Homo sapiens: one gene and its partner. The protein of the gene in region 2 purifies or fractionates together with the protein of the main gene of each other region. This does not show direct contact. Each region holds a gene or a part of one and is shown on either strand. Other genes may lie near its edges.

The links.
Region 1: the proteins of PAPOLG (region 2) and ZFC3H1 purify together in Homo sapiens (affinity purification with mass spectrometry; 2 studies listed by BioGRID and IntAct, with this or other methods). This does not show direct contact.

Annotation. Positions count from the first base shown.
Region 1 is NC_000012.12:71,609,061-71,612,119, forward strand, and holds the end of ZFC3H1 (zinc finger C3H1 domain-containing protein), read right to left. Parts: intron 2,828-3,059; coding exon 2,726-2,827; intron 2,038-2,725; coding exon 1,998-2,037; intron 1,698-1,997; coding exon 1,635-1,697; intron 1,506-1,634; coding exon 1,368-1,505; 3' UTR 539-1,367; downstream 1-538. UniProt on the Homo sapiens protein: Subunit of the trimeric poly(A) tail exosome targeting (PAXT) complex, a complex that directs a subset of long and polyadenylated poly(A) RNAs for exosomal degradation. The RNA exosome is fundamental for the degradation of RNA in eukaryotic nuclei.
Region 2 is NC_000002.12:60,794,151-60,801,459, reverse strand, and holds part of PAPOLG (poly(A) polymerase gamma), read right to left. Parts: coding exon 7,269-7,309; intron 6,751-7,268; coding exon 6,685-6,750; intron 6,497-6,684; coding exon 6,440-6,496; intron 4,399-6,439; coding exon 4,300-4,398; 3' UTR 1-4,299. UniProt on the Homo sapiens protein: Responsible for the post-transcriptional adenylation of the 3'-terminal of mRNA precursors and several small RNAs including signal recognition particle (SRP) RNA, nuclear 7SK RNA, U2 small nuclear RNA, and ribosomal 5S RNA.

The DNA of each region.
Region 1 (3,059 bases), on a different chromosome or scaffold from region 2:
AGGGACTCAAAATATGGTTCTATTTCTAGTGAGCATTATACAAATGTAAACATGTACAAGTTTCCTAGTATTTCATGGGGTTGCTGCTCTGCCTCTAACAGTTCAAGCACATGTAGTTCTAAGATCAGATTTGTGCCAGTGTGCGTTGTGTCATTAACATTTTTCCTGCCAAGGTTAAAACAACCAAATATAAACTGAAAACAAAATAAAAAGCAAGGTCTCCTTTGCATTCAATCACACTGATATTCAACATAAGATGGCATGTCACTAGGCAAATCATTCAAACTACGGTTGGGAGGCACTTTCTAAACACTGAGAATTTGAGAACAAGGAATTTAATGGTAGTGCAAACCTCTCTGTTCACTGTCCTCACAACAGTATCCATCTTCTCATGAATTAAAAAGTCATTAATTTTTTTTTTTTTAATGGGAAAGCAGTTTCAAGATAAAAAAGTATTGCTATAAGTTATGGTGAATATCCGTATCTCCGACTTCAACCCTTTCCCACCAGTGTGAAAAGTGAATAAAGACAGCAAGAGTTTTTAGAAAGTTAACTTATATTAAAAAAGTATATAAACAATTTCAATACTACAAAGTAGTATTTCAATACAAAGCAGTTCAAATATTAACTGTTCTTTAAACTGTTAAACTTTATTATAAATTAAAATTTCTTTACAAAAAAATTGCACATAATATTTGACCACTCTTAGGTTCTGATGCACTGGCATTTGCAATAGTTTCTTTAATCTTCAAGTTAAACAGTCTCGGCAAGGAGTCCAGAACGTAGAAAGGGTAATAAACAACCCTGATAGAGCATTCAAGTGCAACTAGCAGACTTGTGGCCATGGCAGTTACACTTTCCTTAAGATGGACTGCTATAGTTTTAAATCCTGAAATGAAGAATCTCAAAAAAATTTAAAAAGGAAAAACTAAAAGGGACTGCCTGCTTTTTTTACTGTAAACACAGCCCTGGATATTAAATCCCAAACAGGAATCTCTCAGGCATCAGAGAGTGTCAAGTGAGTCAGGAATAACACAAAATAAAGGAATGGGGGAGAAAATAAAAAAAAACAAAGCAAAATTAAAATAAATGTCAGTCACTTTGAGGAACTATACTTACGTATATGATGTTATGAGAATCTGGCAGGGCCTAGAAGCAGGCCAAACAGGAAGTTCATTTATCCAACCGAAGAGGATCATGTTCATTGCTTCCGGTTTTGAGGACAGGATATTGTAGGGAACTTGATATGATCAATAACGCTTGTCTGCCTTACACAGACCTTAGCCAGGGATCAGCCTAATCTTGAAGAATCATTCAAATAATTTTGGCAATTATTATAAGGACTTAGAACTGACTGCACCCAGTGTTCAGTGATTCTTGCTTTCTGTTTTGTTACTGTTTAAATTTAAGAGCTCATTTAGGCTGACTCCAATCTCTTGGCACTTGGAAACTAGTTTTCTCAGGTTATCAGTTTTACCTCCTTCTGATGCTTCAAACAAGAGTTGCTGTAAAAGACAGGGAAGCATAGAAGTAAGACTTAGCTAGAGTTTGAGCATTACCACATCAATGGATATGGCACATGCAGAAAATTTACAGGAAAACATCGAGATAAAATAAAAGATAAAAAGCATTACATCTTTCCACAGTGATGCACAAAGAGGTAACTTCTGTAAGGCTCTCTGATATAAACGGTGGACCTGTAAGATAGATATACACACAATTCCATCAGAAAATATAATGAAAAACACCTTCATAATTCCATCTGTTTAAAGAATGGTAATTCACAATAACATCTGAGACAAAATGGTTATGCTGAGTTTTGGAGTTTCCGAATATTTGGTACTCTTAAAATGTTAACTACTTTTGTTTCCCCACTTGGTTCTTAGTGTGCATGAAATGTTAACTTCTGTGCTTTAATTCTTTTAAATTGAGAAGTCAACAAAAGAGACAGAAAAACTTTTTAAAAGTGACCCATCTGAGATTCAACCATGGCTTACCTCTCTTTGTCCCTTTAGAACAATCTCAGCAGCAATGGCTCTAAGAGAAAAAAAAAAAAAAAGAAATATAGAAAAAGGAAAAGAAAAATTTATATATCTTTGAACAAAATGAAACACCACCACTGGCAGAATACTGACTGTGGGAATCTGAGTACAAAACTTCCTGAAAGTTAACAGGCTAAACTTCCAAGGAGGAAAACCTATAGTGAAAAGAAAAATTCAACAATTTTTATCAACTTTACAAGAAAAAAGCAGACCAGTGTTTTGAACATAAATAACGTTCACAGGAGAAAAAAAAAACAACAACAACAACAAAAAAAAAACACCTCATAATTACTAGTCAAAAATACCTAGCACTAACACCTTTAAAAGAAAGAAGAAATCAGACTACAACAGGTGACACACCACCATTTCAAGAGGTGGTCTTAAAATGTCTGTAGCAGATTTGTTTGATAACAGTACTGTCACCTAAATGTTGTCCTTCAAAGAAAATTAAAAGTCTACGCTTTTTGCTTTTAGAGGCTATTCAATGAGTACTCACTCTCATTAAACCTCAGTAAATGCTAAAAACAAATCTAAATTAAGAATAGCAATCTGTCCAGGAAAAAAAAAAAAAAAAATATATATATATATATATATATAGATGTCATTTCAGATTTACCTGTCTGGAGCAAACCTTATAAATAAAAGCAATAGCTATAAAAACATGTACATGATTGTTGCATTACATTTTCCAGGTGGCCAGGCATGTTGGGATATTATATGTAAACATCTTGGCTTGAAGTTTCAGAATCTGAACATTGCTTTCTTCCCATTCATGTTGAAGTAACCTGTAAAGTACATTCAGGAAAATGAACAAAGCATTGCAAGTGTAACGAACCCCAAATGTGCTCTATGAGCACAATGACGAAGTATAAATTTTGATTAGTTAAATTCCATCAAGACTACCCAGCAAATATTTTAGAATGCCTCTTACAAAAATTACCCTGGGACAGGAATGTGCAAACTACGAAGAGGTCAAGTCAAGATCTATGCTCATCTTACCAAACTACACTAAGGTCC
Region 2 (7,309 bases):
AAAAAAAGAAAAGAAAAAATAGACAATTTGGGGGATGACGTGACCTTATGCAATTGGAAAAAAAAAACCATTATTGAGACTGGTTTTCTTCCATCATCTGCACTATTTGCTACTATGACCAATTTAAATTCTAAGCTTTGGATGATTTAATAGGTAGTTATTTGAACACACATACAATTTTATTTATACAAAGTTTTTTTTTTTCCCTAAACTATCACTTTTATATTTATTGGTCTGTTTAGTTTGTTCTGGCCTGAACTACAAACATGGAGGAGCAAGAGAGTTTTCATGCTACAGAACTCAACATTTTGGGATCTTTAATGATTTATTCTATTTTCTACCATTTCTAATGATCATTCTAAGCTATTGTACTGTGATAATATTGGGTTGAAATTTGTTGAACTAAAGTTTGACCCTGTTAACGAATCTAAGTTATCATGAGGCCATCTGTAAATCTGAGATTAAGCATTTTTCTAAATACCGAGGACTTTACAGTTTCATTTTAGGTTATAAACTTAGAAATTCAGAATTCCAGAGTCCCTCACCAGCCCATTTTACTAGTTAGGAGCCACAGCACATTTTCAGAAATATACCACAGCAAAATCAAAAGTAGAAAATTATATAATATTCCAGGATTATTCAATCCTGGTGGTTCCTAACCCTAACTCCCATACTTTTGCCACTTCGAGAAGCTGATCTAAACTATGCACTTTCCCCAAGAAAAATGCATGTAAACTAGAACTTCTTATACACAATTATAAAGGATTCCCTAAGGGTTCATGATTCTCAAGTTAGGAATTCCTATTTCAAAGGTGTGGAACATAGTGGAAAATAAGTTTAGCCCATTTTGATATTGCCCATCTTTACCTAATTGCTACTATAGTGAAGTAAGCATTTTAATAATGCTACTAAATTGCTGCTTTAAAACAAAGCACTCATTTTAAACACTAACATAGATTTTTAAAATTCATTCTCCTGGCTGGGCACAGTAGCTTATGCCTGTAATCCCAGCACTTAGGGTGGCCGAAGCAGCCAGATCACTTGAGGTGAGGAGTTCAAGACCACCCTGGCCAACATGGTGAAATCCCATTTCTACTGAAAATACGAAAATTAGCTGGGCATGGCACAGGCCTGTAATTCCAGCTACTTGGGAGGCTGAGGCAAGAGAATCACTTGAACCCGGGAGGCAGAGGTTGCAGTGAGGTGAGATCATGCCACTGTGCTCCAGACTGGGTGACAGAGTGAAACTCTTGTCTTCATAAAAAAATAAAAAATAAAAAAATAATAATTCTCCTGTCCCAGTTTTACAAAGTTTTAAGCCATGTACCTCTATCTTGAATTGGTTAAGTCCCTAAGGTTTAAGCTAGCAGGTAATTGTTTTCCTTTCATACATATTCTCCAGAGCTACTGAAAAATGAGCAAATTAAAATGTAATGCCCTTGTGAAAATGAACATGTGTCTATATACTGAAGAACAGATTATTTGACTTCATAAAATATACTTCTAGGTATTTTTTCACACTTGAAAACAAACACGGCCGGGTGCGGTGGTTCACGCCTGTAATCCCAGCACTTTGGGACGCCGAGGCAGGTGGATCACCTGAGGTCACAAGTTCGAGACCAGCCTGGCCAACATGGTGAAACGCTGTCTGTACTAAAAATACAAAAATTAGCTGGGCGAGGTGGTGGGTGCCTGTAATCCCAGCTACTTGGGAGGCTGAGGCAAGAGAATAGCTTGAACTCGGGAGGTGAAGGTTGCAGTGAGCCGAGATTGGGCTACTGCACTCCAGCCTGGGCAACAAGAGCAAAACTCTGTCTCAAACAAAACAAAACAAAACAAAACAAAACAAAACAAACACATGTACTTAGTGCCTCTCATCATAACACAAAATCCCAGATCATACTTTCTCCTTTTTTACTTGGAACTAGTACAATGGAAGCTTCCCACCAAGTTAACGAAATGTACTCAAAGTTCTACCTACTGGTCAGGATAGAAAATATTTTATTTCTGACAAACCCCACCATCTCAAAAGTATTTTATCAACTCCTCAGTTACCAAACAGGTTGAAGAATGCTATCTTTGAGGACTCTAATGTTGACTCATTGACATGTTGAATGGGCTCCTTAATCTAAAATAAATGCCTATCCTATAGTACAAGGTTAGACTTGTTGCTTCCTTATTAAAGAAAAACTCCACTAGTCACTCCAAAGATCTATTTACATAATGGGGTAAACATGGATACAGAAGGAATTCCTAAAGATACTTTGAAGGCTGATTTAAAAGCAAAAGATATGAAATGCAGAAATGCATACACATCCAGTATATAAAATTTAATCAAATTCCTTACTAAAGCTTTCAAAAGTTGAAGTCAGGTGATAATTCTTCGGTTCTTTCATAATCATTCATTTTTGCTCAAATAGACTATTTGTAGAACAATCCCAAAACATCTGAATAAAGGGAAAGAGTCAGCTAAGACAACAGCTTTGCCAAGGAAGCTTCAACTTGGTTATGTGATTTTATTCTTATCTTTTGCTGCTATATAAAAAGGGAATAATAGAACAAACATTTTTTTCCTTGTTGTTCTTTACTTCTAAGACTCTTTTCATGTTTTCCATGGTACAAGGTAAACATTAGAATTTACATTTTGGAGACCTAAGGGGCAATGAACAGGAGTGGGACCTGGAGGATACGGCTCTCTGGCAATTCAAGAATTTCAACTCAATGGTAAAGGGCTTGCAAGAGAAAATGGACTGCTATTTCTCCACTTGCTAGATGGCATCCCGTGAGTCCTATAATACACGAGGTGTCTTCCCCACACTACTCAATGTACCATTTTGGGTTTTTCCTACTGGACCTACTAAATGCTGAGTGAAATCTAAAGAAGGTGGTAGATACTAGCATTCCTGGCTGTGTAATCTATACATTTTCATTTTAAATATAGTAATTCAAGCATAATCCATATTTAAAAAATTAGACTAAGGAGAGACAATAAAGGTTTTAAACGTTTCTCTTTGAAAAGATGGTATCTTACAGTACATACAAAAATACTCTGAAAATACATACGACTTCATTTACAAAACACTGAATCAACATATTACAAGAATTACATGGTTATGGATTTTAATAAACTGAGCATGCATTCATGAAACTTAAAAAATATTAAGAAATGCATTGAAAAAAGCAGCGTAAAAAAAGACAACTCATATAGTTAAATAAAAATTACAAAGGTCCTGAGCCAATTAATGGTTGGTAACAATGTCATTCAAAATGCCTTTAGGTTTCAATAAAATCCACTGCTTATTTCTGCATGCCTAGTCCGTGAAGAAACTATTTGAAGTTGTGGGGTAAATAATGATCAGGAATTATCATGCCAAGTTAATTTTACACCTCAAAAATACAAGTGTGCCATACTTAAAGGTTATCTTATTGTTGATGCTGGAATGAGTTGCTCCTCAGTAAAAAATACCAGTCAACTAACAAGAATGGCATGAAATAGGATATGTAACAATTTTACCATTCATATACTGACTTTCAGTATCCTGGTTATATTTTGATTTTTAATAAAGATGCATTTCAAAGGCCTCCATGGGAGGCAAAATATAGAGAATTTATGGTGCCCAACTCTTATGTAATCACTGGACTAATCTTCCCTGGTAACTATGCAACATTTGGACAGAAAGGCACACAAAAAAGTTTAAATATTTCATGTGCCAATCTGGAAAAAAATAATTTAAATCAACAGAACAGACAGTACATCTACACAAATGAGGAAAGCAGAAAAGATACCTCACATTCATTTATCTCAGGTTTCAAAGTGGCTTCAATGCTAAAGTAAATGTATTAACATTTGGAAAATACAAGACAATTTTTTTGTTTGTTTTCAATTTTTTTAGCTCTATACAATGATTACAACATAAGACAAAAAAAGAAAAACACAAAAAACAAAACAAAAAAGGAGTTCAGGACTTGTTATCAGTGTCCAAGTGGCTAAGAACTGGTTCCCATAACAAGCATTGAAAGTTAAGGCAGTAAAACCCCCAAATGCAAAGCTGTAATACTGTAGATGGCAATTTGACAGCAGGTGATCCTCAGAGAAGTGTATGTAGCAATCAGTGAGAGAATGCTACAGCATCTACAGGTCAAAGTTTGACAGTTCAAAAACCACTTCAAGGTTATTAGACTGAAGGCTGTCACTTTCACCTTATTTCACGTATGACAGCCACTTCTATTTAAAAAACAAGTGGCTGCATCTATGCCACTAAATGATTGCTTGTTCACTTAAGTGAGGAGGCACTGCTTTTACCGATTAAGGGTCAGTCGAATGGAATTTTTGATGACACGGATGTTGTTTGCTGGAACTGGAGATGATGAATCTGGTAGTTCTTTACTGGGTAGTCTCTATTAGAAAGAAAGAGGAAACAAAAAAGGAAAAGCACATCATATATATTATAAAGGCCCAGCTAGAAAGTCAGTCACAAAACTTGGGGAGTTTTTCTCCCAAACCCTCTAGCTCCTAAACACTCAAGTATGCAATGAATATTTCCTTCCGTGTTCATAGGGAACTCTTGCTTTCGGAACTGCTACTTCTTTTTACAGTCAGAGGTGAAAAGCAGAGGGATAAGAGAAAGGGTAGAAGTGGCAGGAGTGTGAATATGTACAGGAAAAGAGGAACTGCCATGCCTGGATCAAGAAATGCATAAAGAACACAGTCCTTAAGGTCAAGCAAAGAAAAAAAAAAGGAAGTTCATGGTGACTAAACAGGAAGCTCTTGGGGTGTGAAGTGAAAAATGAGTGTGTGCAGTAGAGAAAAATTTAATATCTGAGAGTTATGTCCCTCAATTTGTTTCTGTAATACATTCATGAAGAAGACCACTGACTCAATCTGTGAGATACTTAAGTTCTCAGGAAAACTGAACTTTGTACTTAGGCTAGATAACTTTGATGGTTATGAAATTCAGGGACATCGGTTTGAGGGATTCTGAGGGCATTAAAGATTATTACATAAAGAAGGCAAAATCTAGGGCCGGGCATGGTGGTTCACGCCTGTAATCCCAGAACTTTGGGAGGCCAAGGCGGGCGAATCACTTGAGGTCAGGAGTTCAAGAGCAGCCTGGCCAATATGGTGAAACCCTTTTCCACTACAAATACAAAAATTAGCCACTACAAATACAAAAAGATCGCGCCATTGCACTCCAACCTGGGCTACAGAGCGAGCCTCCATGTCCAAAAAAAAAAAAAAAAAAAAAAAAAAGGAAGGCAAAATCTAGACTTCTGTAATGGGGATAGTTTCTTGTCAAGAGATGACTGCTTAATTCTCCTCTTGTTTTACCTTGGCTAAGCCAGTATCTGTATCATATCCATATGCATTAAAACAATTATGAGCAATTTCAGATATACAAAGAAGTAGACACCAGGGCAATAAGGACTTAAATGCCAAAACCAAGTTTCAGACATTATTACAATTTTGCTGCAATTGTTTGGTGTACCCACTTTCCCTTTAGACTGGATATATTAAAAAATCCAGATATGTCATTTCACTCTTTTGTACTTCAATATCCATCTCAAAATTTTTTCTTCCACCATGACACATAATTATACGTTCATATTTTTTGTAACTTAATCTTATGTTAAAGGCTCAAAATCTACAACTAATAGCCTGTGAGTATACTATTTTGCTTTAGAATAGCTACTACATCCTGGAGAACCTGGCAGGGTAACAGTTGATGAAAAGCACTTTACTATTTAATGGCCATTCTGTTTTATTATAAATTATAATTTATAATTATCATCATATATATTTATAATTATTTATCATTATTATAAATAAGCCATTCTGTTCATTATAAACTCTCAGAGAAGGTTTTTCTCTATTTACACAAGGCTGGTTTTTGAGTACTTGCTTTTTAGCATACCACACTTAATACTACACACATTTTTAGTTATAAAAGTAATTCTTCAAATAATAAACATTTAAATTACAATTTAGGGGCGTTTAGCTCATGTTTTAAAGGTACTTACTATATATACCACTACATTTGGTTCCTCTAAAATATTAATACATATGGTTCCTAATTATCAAACCTATGTTTTGGCAGTAAGCAATAGTACACAACAGAGATATACCTCCAGGTGCTTGGTAAGAAATTAATGTGCTGAGCATCCAACTGCTTCTTTAAAGATAAAAAACAAAGGGTGAACATAATCTAAATAGATAATAAAGTTGTCTTAAACTACTGCCTCTTTTTTAGACTTTTGAGGTACATACATTCAGAACTATATACTTGCTATCTCCAACCCCAACTACACTGCTAGTCCTTGGGGACAGGGACAAAATCTTACTTTTTCCCAGTGCTAGGCTCTTAATAAGCCTTTTGTACTTGTAGATTACCTATGAGTTTTTACCTATGTACTGTACCTATGAACAAGACTATCTTGTTACCTTTTTGCGTGATGTATCAATAGTTGGAATAGGCATAGATTCTCCTCCAATGGCATCCTAAAAACAGAAGAATCAACACAAGTGAAAACTAACTTTCCTATATGCAAACACTTATTTCTACTTAAAATAAAACCTAACGAAAACCTGAAAATAAATCTAATCTGACCTACTTTCTAATATGGCACTTTTCCTGATACATGGCGCTTTACAATAAATATTCTGAAGCACACTATTAATATATTTACCACTGATTTTCTTTTTCTTTCTTCAGCAGTGCGGGGGTCCTTAAATGTTGATTCAAGTCGAATAAACTAAAATATAAACATTGAAATAGATTGCTATTATGTACCTACAAAAACCCATATAAATCTATATAAACTGGAAAACTAGTTATTGGTTACACTATTATAAAAATTACTATAAACATGGATTGGTAAGAGAAGATAATTTAAATTAGATTGAATTCAACTGCCACCGTTAATTTCTACAGTTTGGGTGATCTTTTTGGTTAAATCAATTCAGATTCTAACAAATATAGTTTTACCACCACCTACTGGAAGCAGGGCATATCAACACACAAGAAATGAGATTTTGTTATCAGTAATGACTTCTGTAAATCAAGGAGAAACTCAGACCAATCATTCAAATTTTCAGACGTATTAGTAATTTCAATTTAGGATGAGCAATTAATATTGTTTCTTTAAGATTTGGGTAAATATTCTTTTCAGCCAACTCCTAACAGAACACCAACAGCTATGGAAAATTGTTTCTTTAGTATTAACTATAAAAAATATCAACTACTGAATTACCACTAAAGTTGTAACTTTACCTTTTCTACGTCTTTCAACCTCTTAGGAGTCCCATCTATGG